Linked DNA regions of Homo sapiens: region 1 is linked to region 2. The links come from fine-mapping of genetic effects on gene expression. A gene starts in region 2. The other region holds a variant in brackets. All regions are shown on one strand. Distances are between the middles of the regions.

Evidence for each region. PIP is the estimated chance that this variant, and not a neighbour inherited with it, causes the effect.
Region 1: its variant is the best candidate, but not a certain one, in a credible set for the expression of CEBPG in sun-exposed skin (GTEx, PIP 0.59).

Annotation. Positions count from the first base shown.
Region 1 is chr19:33,320,203-33,325,579 of GRCh38, forward strand. No RefSeq gene overlaps it. Among named protein-coding and RNA genes, the nearest start is that of CEBPA-DT, 20 kb to the left of the region's middle. The variant A/G (reference allele first, on the strand shown) is at 3,286.
Region 2 is chr19:33,370,583-33,375,959 of GRCh38, forward strand. CEBPG (CCAAT enhancer binding protein gamma) reads left to right here and starts at 3,127. Exons shown (of 2, transcript NM_001806.4): 1 at 3,127-3,313. RefSeq lists a silencer at 2,914-3,723.

The DNA of each region.
Region 1 (5,377 bases), 50 kb before region 2:
TCATTGTAAATGTGTATATACCTAATAACAGAGCCCCAAAACACATAAAGTAAAAATGGACAGAAAAAAAGGGTGTGACTGGAGGTTGAGGGTGGAAGACTTTTTTTTAAATTTCAATTTTATACTTCATATGGTTTAAATTTTAACACCAAATGTGTATTCTGCCATCATCATCATCATCATCAAAAGAGTGAAAATAATATTTGAGCCAAGTCTTAAAAGATGACTAAGAATTTTTCAGAAAGGTGGTAAGGGAGGGCATTCCAGGCAAAGGTCATATGTGTGCCAGCACAGGGAGGCATGAAATTGCCTGATGTGTTCTGGTCCTGCAGTTTTTTGGCAAGTCTGAAATATAGGATTGGGTTGGTATTACTGAGGAGGAATGGGAGATGAGCAACAGACAAGTAGAAGCCAGATGTGGAAGGGGCTTATCAGTGTGCTCATTTGAACTTTATCTTGACAGTCATGGATAGTCACTAATGTGTTTTTCAAAGGGAGGATACAGGATTTTCTCTGGGCTTTAGAGAGACAATTCTGACTGCAGCTTAGAGAATGGTTTAGAGGAGACCAGAGTGAAGGCAGAGTAACTTCTGGGAGATGCTGTAGTAATGCAGATTAGAAATGCTGGGGGCCTAAACCAGGAAAGTAGAGCAGAGATGGAGAAAAAACAAGTGTGGTTTTGAAAGGTATGTAGGGACCAGGCACAGTGGCTCATGCCTGTAACTCCAGCACTTTGGGAGGCCAAGCCAAGTGGATCACCTGAGGTCAGGAGTTTGAGACCAGCCCAGCCAACATGGTGAAACTCCGCCTCTACTAAAAATACAAAAATTAGCCAGACATGGTGGTGCATGCCTGTAATCCCAGCCACTCAGGAGGCTGAGGCAGGAGAATCATCACTTGAACCTCAAGAGGCAGAGGTTGCAGTCAGCCGAGATCATGCCTTTGCACTCCAGCCTGGGTGACAAGAGTGAAACTCCATCTCAAAAAAAAAAAAAAAAAAAGGAAAGAAAGAAAAATAAAGGTACATAGTAAGCAAAATAATGAGAATTTTGCAATTCTGGATCTAAGTGATGAGAGACATTGACATCTATTAACTCCTGCAAGTTTAGTCTCATGAAACCACTTAGTGACACGATACTTTATTCCCATTTCCATAAAACAATATTGACATAATGATATCTACCATTTAAAAAGTTTATTTTATTCAATGCAATCCCTATAAGAATCTCAACTGGTTTCTTTATGTAATAGAAATGGACACACTGCTGATCCTAAAATTCATGTGAAAATCAAGGGACTTAAAATAGCCAACATAATCTTGAATAGAAGAAAAATGTTTGGAGGACTTAAACTTCCTGATTCCAAAACTTACTACAAAGCAAAGGTATTCAAGACAGTGTGGTACTGGCATGAGGTTAGACATATAGATCAATGGAAAAGAATTGAGAGTCCAGAAATAAATCCATATATTAATGGTAAATTGATTTTTCAACAAGGGTGCCAAAAGCATTCAGTGGCAGAAAAAAATAGTCTCTTCAATATATGGTGCTGGGACAACTGGATATCTATATGTGAAAGAATGAAGCTGGACCCCTACCTCACACCATATACAAAAATTAATTCAAAATGGATCAAAGACCTAAATGTAAGAGCAAAAACTATGAGATTCTTAGAAGAAAACAAATAAGTAATTCTTTATGACCTTGGTTAGGCAAAATGGTTTCTCAGATATGACACCCAAAGCATAAGCAACAAAATAAATATAGATAAATTGGACTTCATCAAAATTAAAAATTTGTATGCTTCAAATGACACTAATAAGAAAGTTGGCTAGGCTTGGTGGCCCATGCTGTAGTCCCAGCACTTTGGGGGGGCTGAGGTGGAAGGACTGCTTGAGGCTGAGAGTTTGAGACCAGCCTGGACAACATAGCAAGACCCTGTCTCTCAAAAAAAAAAAAATTAGCCAGGTGTGTGGTGCATACCTATAGTCCCAACTACCCTGGAGCTAATGTGGGAGAATCACTTGAGCCTAGGAGTTTGAAGCTGCAGGGAGCCATGATTGTGCCACTGCACTCCAGCATGGGTGACAGAGGGAGATGCTGTCTCAAAAACAAAAAACAAAACAAAACAAACAAGAAAGTGAAACGACTAAACAATGGCAGAAAATACGTGCAAATTGTACCTCTAATAAGGGACTTATATCTAGAATACATAAAGAACTCTTACAACCCAAGAATAAAATTATCCCAATTAAAAAGTGGACAAAGGCCGGGCGCGGTGGCTCACGCTTGTAATCCCAGCACTTTGGGAGGCCGAGGCGGGTGGATCACGAGGTCAGGAGATCGAGACCACGGTGAAACCCCGTCTCTACTAAAAATAAAAAAAAATTAGCCGGGCGTGGTGGCAGGCGCCTGTAGTCCCAGCTACTCGGAGAGGCTGAGGCAGGAGAATGGCGTGAACCCGGGAGGCGGAGCTTGCAGTGAGCCGAGGCTGCGCCACTGTACTCCAGCCTGGGGTGACACAGCGAGACTCCGTCTCAAAAAAAAAAAAAAAAAAAAAAAAAAGTGGACAAAGGATTTGAATAAACATTTCTCCAAAAAAGTTCTACACCTGGCCAATAAGCACATGAAAGGGCGCTCAACATCATTATTCCTCAAGGAAATGCAAGTAAAAACACAATGGGCTACTCACTTCACAGCCACTAGGAAGCCTGTAATAAAAAAGACGGCTAGTAAGTGTTAGCGTGGGGAGACTGATACCCTCATACCCTGCTGGTGGGGATGTAAAATGGTGTGGCCACTTAGGAAAGCACTCTGGCAATTTCTCAAAAAGAGCTGCCATTTGACCCAGCAATTCCATGCCTAGGTATATAGGCAAGAGAAATGAAAATATGTTGTATTAGTCTGTTTTCATGCTGCTGATAAAGACATACCTGAGACTGGGTAATTTATAAAGAAAAGAAGAGGTTTAATGGACTCACAGTTCTACGTGGCTGGGGAGGCTTCATAATCATGACAGAAGGCAAAAGGCATGTCTTACATGCTGGCAGGGAAGAGAGGGCTCTTGCAGGGAAACTCTCCTCTATAAAACCATCAGATCGCGTGAGACTTACTCATTATCACGAGAACAGCACGGGAAAGACCTGCATCCATGATTCAGTTATCTCCTGAGTCCCTCCCACAACACGTGGGAATCATGGGACCTACAATTCAAGATGTGATTTGGGTGGGGACACAGTCAAACCATATCATATGTCCACACACAATCTCATACATGAATACTTAT[A/G]GTAGTATTATTAATAACAGGTAAAAGGTGGAACCAATCTAAATGCTCACCCACTGCTGAAAGGATAAACAAAATGTGGTATATCCACATGATGGAATATTACTTAGCTGTGAAAAGGAATAACATGCTGATATGTGCTACCACACAGATGGACCTTGAACATATTATGCAAAGTGGCAGAGACAGTTACAAAAGATGACACAGTCTATGAGTCCATTTATATGAAGTGTCCTGAACATGCAAATCTATGGAGACATAGAGGAGATTAATGGCTGCCTAGGGCTGTGAGGAGGGGGTGATTGGGGGTGGCACATGATAGCTAAAGGGGACACAGCTGGTTTGGAGAGTGAAGAAAATGTTCTAAAATTGTACTGATAGTTGCACAACTCTGTGAATATACAAAAAAATCATTAAATTGTACACTTAAAATGGGTGAATTGTATGGTGTGGGAATTATATCTCAGTAAAGAAGTTACCAATAACATTACAAAACAAGAAAAAGAGTTTATTTTATTTTATTGAGAGGTGGGGCTTCACCCTGTCACTCAGGCTGGAGTGCAATGGCACCTTCTTAGTTCACTGCAACCTCGAACTCCTAAGCTGCCTCAAACTCCTGGCCTCAAGCGAGCCTCCCACCTCAGCTTCCTGAGAAGCTGGGACTACAGGCATGTACCACCATGCCCAGCTATTAAAAAAATTTTTTTTTTGTAGATGGAGTCTTGCTTTGTTGCCCGCGCTGGTCTCAAACTCCTGGCCACAAGCAATTCTCCTGCCTTGGCCTCCCAAAGTGCTAAGATCACAGGTGGGAGCCAGTGGGCCCAGCCCTTTTAATTTTTAATTTTTAAGTTGTACAGATGATATATGTGTATTTTATTTTTAAGAAAATCAAAGTATAGCAAGGCGTAGAGGAAAACATTTTAAATTACCCCCTTATCCCAAATTTTGAATCCTACCGCAGTTCTAAGAGGAAGCCACTGTCATCAGTTTAATGCAAATCTTTCTTCACCTTTTTTTGTGATGTATAGGTATGAACGTAAATAAGAAGATGTAGATACATCATTTAGTTTTCTGACTTTAAAAATAAAAGGGTTCGTGTGGTATGTATTGCTCTGCTGCTTGCTTTTTCACTTAACATTGTGTTTTGGAGATCCCTCTGTGTTATTACATAGAGATCTTCCTTTGCTTTAAAAAATACTGCATGGTATAATATTATATAGCAAAGATGTGTGTAGGCTTAATACTTAGTAGTGAAATTGTTGGGTCAAAGGGTGTGGGGTTTAAAATTTAACAGAGGCCGGGAGCAGTGGCTCACACCTGTAATCCCAGCACTTTGAGAGGCCAAGGTGGAAGGATCACTTAAAGCCAGGAGTTGGAAACCAGCCTGGGCAACATAGTAAGACCCTACGTCTAAAAACTTGGCTGGGTGTGGTGGCACACACCTGTGGTCCCAGCTGCTTTGGAGGCTGAGGTGGGAGGATTGCTTGAGCCCGAGAGTTCAAAGCTGCAGTGAGCTATGATCACACCACTGCACTCCTGGAGGGGTGACAGAGCAAGACCCTGTCTCTTAAAAAAAAAAAAAAAAGAAAAGAAAAATAAAATGTAACAGATACTACACATTGTTTTTTAGAAAGGCTACACAGTTTCACACACTCACCAGCAGTAAATACATACATCTTTCAATAACATTTTGTAATATCAAATAATGGATATTAATACTTTTAAATTTTGTTTGTTTGATAGCTCATTGTTGCTTTAACTTCTATTTTCCTGATTACTTATAAGGTTAATGAATATGAAATTCCCTAATGTTTTCACTCTGAGTTATTTTTCTTAGGCTGTCTGGTGTATTTTTTACATCTTTTTATTTCAAGGGCTTTATTTTTAGTTTGTTTTACCCATAGCTCTTGTAAACAGCAAGTAGCTGATTTTCTTGGTTGAAGTTCTTATAAATTTACCTGATCTGGCAGCTGAAAAAAAGGGAACTTGCAAAATTTAACAGTTTGTTAATGACAAATCACTAAAATTGTTTAAAAGTTGTCTATTTGGCCATGTATTGTCTTAGTTTAGCATATTATCATGTGCTGTAGAATTA
Region 2 (5,377 bases):
GACCAGGGGAGGTAGCTCATGCCTGTAATCCTAGCACTTTAAAAGGCCGAGGTGGGTGCATCACTTGACCTCAGCTGTTCGAAACCAGCCTGGGCAACATGGTGAAACCCTATTGCTACAAAAAATACAAAAATTAGCCAAGCATGGTGGCGCATGCCTTGTAGTCCCAGTTGCTTGGGAGGCTGAGGTGGGAGGATCACCTGAGCCCAGGAGGTCCAGGCTGCAGTGAGCCATGCTTGCCCCACTGCACTCCAGCATAGGTGACAGAAAGAAAAATTGTGTAATTACCAAACGCCTGTCTGCCTGGCTGTAAGTGTAAGTTCCATGTGGGCAGTGACTGTGTGTTTGTCTTGCTCATTGCTGAATCTCCAACACTTAGCCTACGGCTTAGTACATAGTTGGCACCAAATGCATACTTGTAAACTGAGTAGAAGAAAAACTACCAGCTACCAGCTGAAAAGAAAATAAATACCCGAGTGTCCTGGGCACTGACTAGACTTGCTGGGTGTGTAAGAAGGCCTGCCCAGACACAGATACAAAGAATGCTGGAACAGCTTGGCAGGGCGGTTTGCAAACCAAAGGATAACTGAATATACCTATGCAAGTTCTTTTTTTTCCCCTTACACATTTTTCTTTTTTCTTTTCTTTCCTTTTTTATTTTTATTTTTTTATTTTTGAGATGGAGTCTTGCTGTCACCCAGGCTGGAGTGCAGTGGCGTGATCTCAGCTCACTGCCAACATTTGCCTCCCGAGTTCAAGCAATTCTTCTGCCTCAGGCTCCCGAGTGGCTGGGATTACAGGCACCCGCCACCACGCCTGGCTAATTTTTATATTTTTAGTAGAGACAGGGTTCCACCATGTTGGCCAGGGTGGTCTCAAACTCCTGACCTCAGGTGATCCGCCTGCCTCGGCCTCCCAAAGTGCTGGGATTACAGGCGTGAGCCACTGTGTCTGGCCCCCTTACACATTTTTTAAGTGATTAGGAAATATTCAGGGTAAAATTATGATTTTGTGAGCAATAAATCACAATCCTATTTTAATAGTACTAAAATCTTGATCAAAGCAAGTTCAGGCAGGACTTGGTTACTCACACCCTTAATCCCAGCAATCTGGGAGGCCGAGACAGAAAGATCACTTGAGCCCAGGAGTTTGAGACCAGAGTGGACAATATGGTGAGACCTTGTCTCTACAAAACATTTTTAAAAAATTAGCTAGGTGTGGTGGTGCATGCCTGTAATCCCACCTACTTGGGAGGCTGAGGTGGGAGGATGGCTTGAGCCCAGGAAGTCGAGGCTGCAGTGAGCTGTGATCAAGCTGTGGCAGTGCCATTGCACTCCAGCTGGGGCAACACAGCAAGATCGTCTCAAAAAAAAAGAAGAAAAGAAATTTAAGCTGAGAATACTGAGAGCCAACGTGAAGAAACACACTTGTTTCAATGACACTTATTCTCCTAAGTGTGCATCTGTGAGCATTATTACCTGTTTTTTTTTTTTTGGAGACAGGGATCTCATTCTGTGGCTCAGGCTGGAGTGCAGTGGCTCAATCTCAGCTCACTGCAACCTCCGCCTCTCAGGCTCAAGCCATCCTCCCATCTCAGACTCCAGAGTAGCTGGGACCACAGGCACAGCGCCACCACACCCGGCTAATCTTCTGTATTTTTGGTAGAGATGGGGTTTTTCCATGTTGCCCAGGCTGGTCTCTAATTCCCGACCTGAAGTGATCAGCCTGCCTCGGCCTCGCAGAGTGCTGGGATTACAGACCTGAGCCACCGCGCCCAGCCCATTGTTCACCGTTGTGACCCCTTTTAATTTTTATTTATTGCTTTATCATCTTACTGATTCCTCGAAACAATCTTACGGGGCGAGCCGGTTCCATGGGCGCTGAAGAAACATTTCCTCTTTCAAAGCCTCAATTGTTTGAACGATACGCGTTGCTAAAGAGGAAGCAATTAAACCTATCAGGCGAGTTCTGCCCTCCGCCCAGCGAGCTGCTGCTTCCTGGTGTTAAAACGCTTTCGGGGCCAGGCGCGGTGGCTCACGCCTGTAATCCCAGCACTTTGGGAGGCCGAGGCGGGCGGATCACGAGGTCAGAAGATCGAGACCATCCCGGCTAAAACGGTGAAACCCCGTCTCTACTAAAAAAATACAAAAAATTAGCCGGGCGTAGTGGCGGGCGCCTGTAGTCCCAGCTACTTGGGAGGCTGAGGCAGGAGAATGGCGTGAACCCGGGAGGCGGAGCTTGCAGTGAGCCGAGATTGCGCCACTGCACTCCAGCCTGGGCGACAGAGCGAGACTCCGTCTCAAAAAAAAAAAAAAAAAAAACGCTTTCGGGTTCTCCTGGCGAGTTTTAAGTCACACTGGATCGCTGCTTATTTTCAGAGATCACCTCGCACCCATGCACCTGGAAGGCACCCAAAGAGAATCATTTTAAGAAATTCACTTCATCTCACCCTAACAACAAAGCACAGCCTGCAGCACATGGATTTCACCCATGTGACATCAATGCTAATCCTATGTGTGAAACATCTGGGTTCATTCGATTTTTTAAAAATTAGTAACTGAGATGGGGTCTCGCTATGTTGTCCAGGCTGGTTCTCCAACGCCTGGGCTCAAGCCATTCTCCCGCCTCGGCCTCCCTCGGCGCTGAGATTATAGGCGGGAGCCACCGCGTCAGCCTCCACTCTTTTTGCGGCGACAAAGCCCGCCCGCCTGCGGGGCGTTCCGTTCGCAGAAACTCTGTGAGGGACGCCGCGGGGGCTTCCAAGGGACGCGGCGAAACCAAAACAGTCGCCGGTGGTTCACAAAACCACCTCAGAAAATGCTTCCAAAGGCACGTCTGGCCTCCACAAGGTGACGGCTTTTCAGCCTCCGACTCGAACTTGAGTCGTCCACAGCACTAGGCCGCCGCCAGCCCGGGCGAGCTGCCTAGGGACCGCGGACGCCGCAGCAAGCAGCTCCCTGCTCCCGCCACACCCGCCGAGCCAGCCGCGCGGAACCCACTCCCCCACCGTGGGCCCGCCTCCCGCCGCCAGCCTGCCCACGATTGGTCGACTGGGCTGCCCGTCGCGAGAGAAGGCGGTGCCTCCGGCAGGCCGGCGCTCCCATTGGCCGGGATGGCGGCGGCGGCGCGCGCGGCCCCGGCGAGCAGGGGAAGCCGGTGGCCGCGGCTGCGGAACGGGCGGAGGCTGCCGGTTTCGTAACCGTCGCTCCTCCTCGCTGACTCGCGGGCTGTGAGGCCTGGGTCGGCTCGGGCCGCACCGCGCGGGGCCGCTCGGAGTGGAGGCCGCCTGGGGGCAGGCGGGCTAGAGGAGCAGGTAAGGAGGCTGCGGCGGGCGCCCTGAGAACGGGGAGGAGGAGGCCGCGGCGACGCCGGCCGCTCGACTGGGTGCGGGCCCGGCTCGGGGAAACCCAGCCCCGGCCCCAGACGGCCCGCTGGCCCGGGAAGGCCACGCGAGGCTGGAGGCGCGGGCGGCGGCGCCGCGCGGCGTCTGATGCAACCTGCCGGCAACACCCGGCGGGGACGCTGAGCTCATTCCTGGCCGCGGCCCAGCGCTGCGGCGCCGCCCGTCGACCCCCGCGCTGCCCGGGGCGCCCCTCGCGGCGGGCCGGGAGCGCGCGAACGGCCGGGGAATGCCCCCTGCGGAGCCCGGCCCCCTCTCGGTGAAACGGGCGCTGTGACCCGCCAGGCTCGCATTGGCCCCTGGGGATGAAGGGTGTTCCCAGAATAGCAGAAGGTGGACCGAGTCGAGCTTTAGAATCCTGATCTTCTAGAAGGGCTCAGCTTGCGGTGATCGAAAATCTGTTCAGAAGTTCAAAGACTGATCAATAAAATAGGGAAAGCAACTGGTTTTTAAATGCATGACTTTGCAGAGATAATATTTTGCTTCTTTGTGGAGCTGTTGGAATGTCCTGCACTTTACTGTTGAACGTAGTTTAGAAGAACACGCAACACCTACGGGTCGAATAGAGAAGAAATGAAGCACTTCGCAGGCATAGTTGGAGGGAGCGGAGCAGGGCCGACAGCCAGCGGAGGTGACCAGATGCGAAGGATGGAAATGCATGTGTCGCGGGGGGAGGAGAGTGTTTTCCAGGGCAGCTGGTGTGTTGCTTCTCTTCCGCAGGTTTACGTGTTGGGTTTTCCTCTTGTTTGAAGTTTATACTGTAATCTGGCATCCTGAAATGTATAAGATTTAGAAAGGTCTCAATGTTGATGGGTGACACCAAAATTGGTAGTTGTGTCAGAATTGACTGCTTATATGAATAGGTTGTCACTTAAGGCAGACTTCTCCCAAAGAAATGTGACTCCCAGAGAAAATTTTAAAAGAAAATCCTATAAGGGCTTGCTTTACGAAGACATTCTACACCTAGAAGCTCTTGATATTTAAGATGTGGTCATCTGTTAGCCCTTGAGTAGTATTTGGGATAAGCTGTTCATAAGGTCGATTCTGCTTCTGGAAAAAGTTGCTGTAAACAAGGCTAAATAATTACAGGGTACAAGGGAGCTGAAGCATATTTCAGCTTCTTGATTCCTGCTTTTGGTGGGCACACTTGGCTGGTTCAGTTATTTTTAATACCTGCTTTTAAAAAAAGTAGATGGAAACAAAACTTCATTGAGAATATCCTTTAAATTCTCAAGATCACATCATGTCTGTCTGCAAGGCTGTCTGATCTTGGAGAGATGGTTTCATCCCTGGGAAATTAAACACTATGTGCTGAGCCCCTGGTAAAGACAAATAGGACCTCGTGGGGCTGAATTTGGTCTCGTGGTCTAAGATTGCCTCACTTGGTCACAGTAATGGTAAATACAGGTAGCCACGATTCCAGCTGTATTGTGCGTTCTTGGGAGGGTTGGTTCCATGGGTTGTTATATTGATAGGTACACTGGCCTCCTGCGTTTGTGGCTTTCTAGCTCTATCAGTAAAAAAAAGACAAAAATGAGCATGACCTCCTAATGGATGTTCATTTACAAATAGTCTATTTGTTTTGTGTGTTGTAAATCACTTCAAAAGGATTGGGTTAGAAAGATGATGTTGATGTTCTTCTAATGCTCCAGTGACCCACTTCTGTACTCCCAGAAAGGGGACGTCCCCTTCCTCATGGACCCTGCGCTAGATGCTTGTGAAGATCTGCAGGGAGACACGATGCGGCTGGAGTTGACAGACCTAGGGAACAAATTTTCCCAGATGCCCAAAGAAAAGAGAAAGCACAGACCATTTAGGATACAGATAGTGGTTTAGTACTGTCAAGATGTGGTGTGAGGGAGGAGAGAGGGTCAGGACCTTGGATTTGATCCTGTAGACTGGAGCCAGAGATGAATTTTCACCAGGAGAATGACTCACTCAGGTTTGAGTGTTCAATTGCTCTGGAGACAGAGGTTG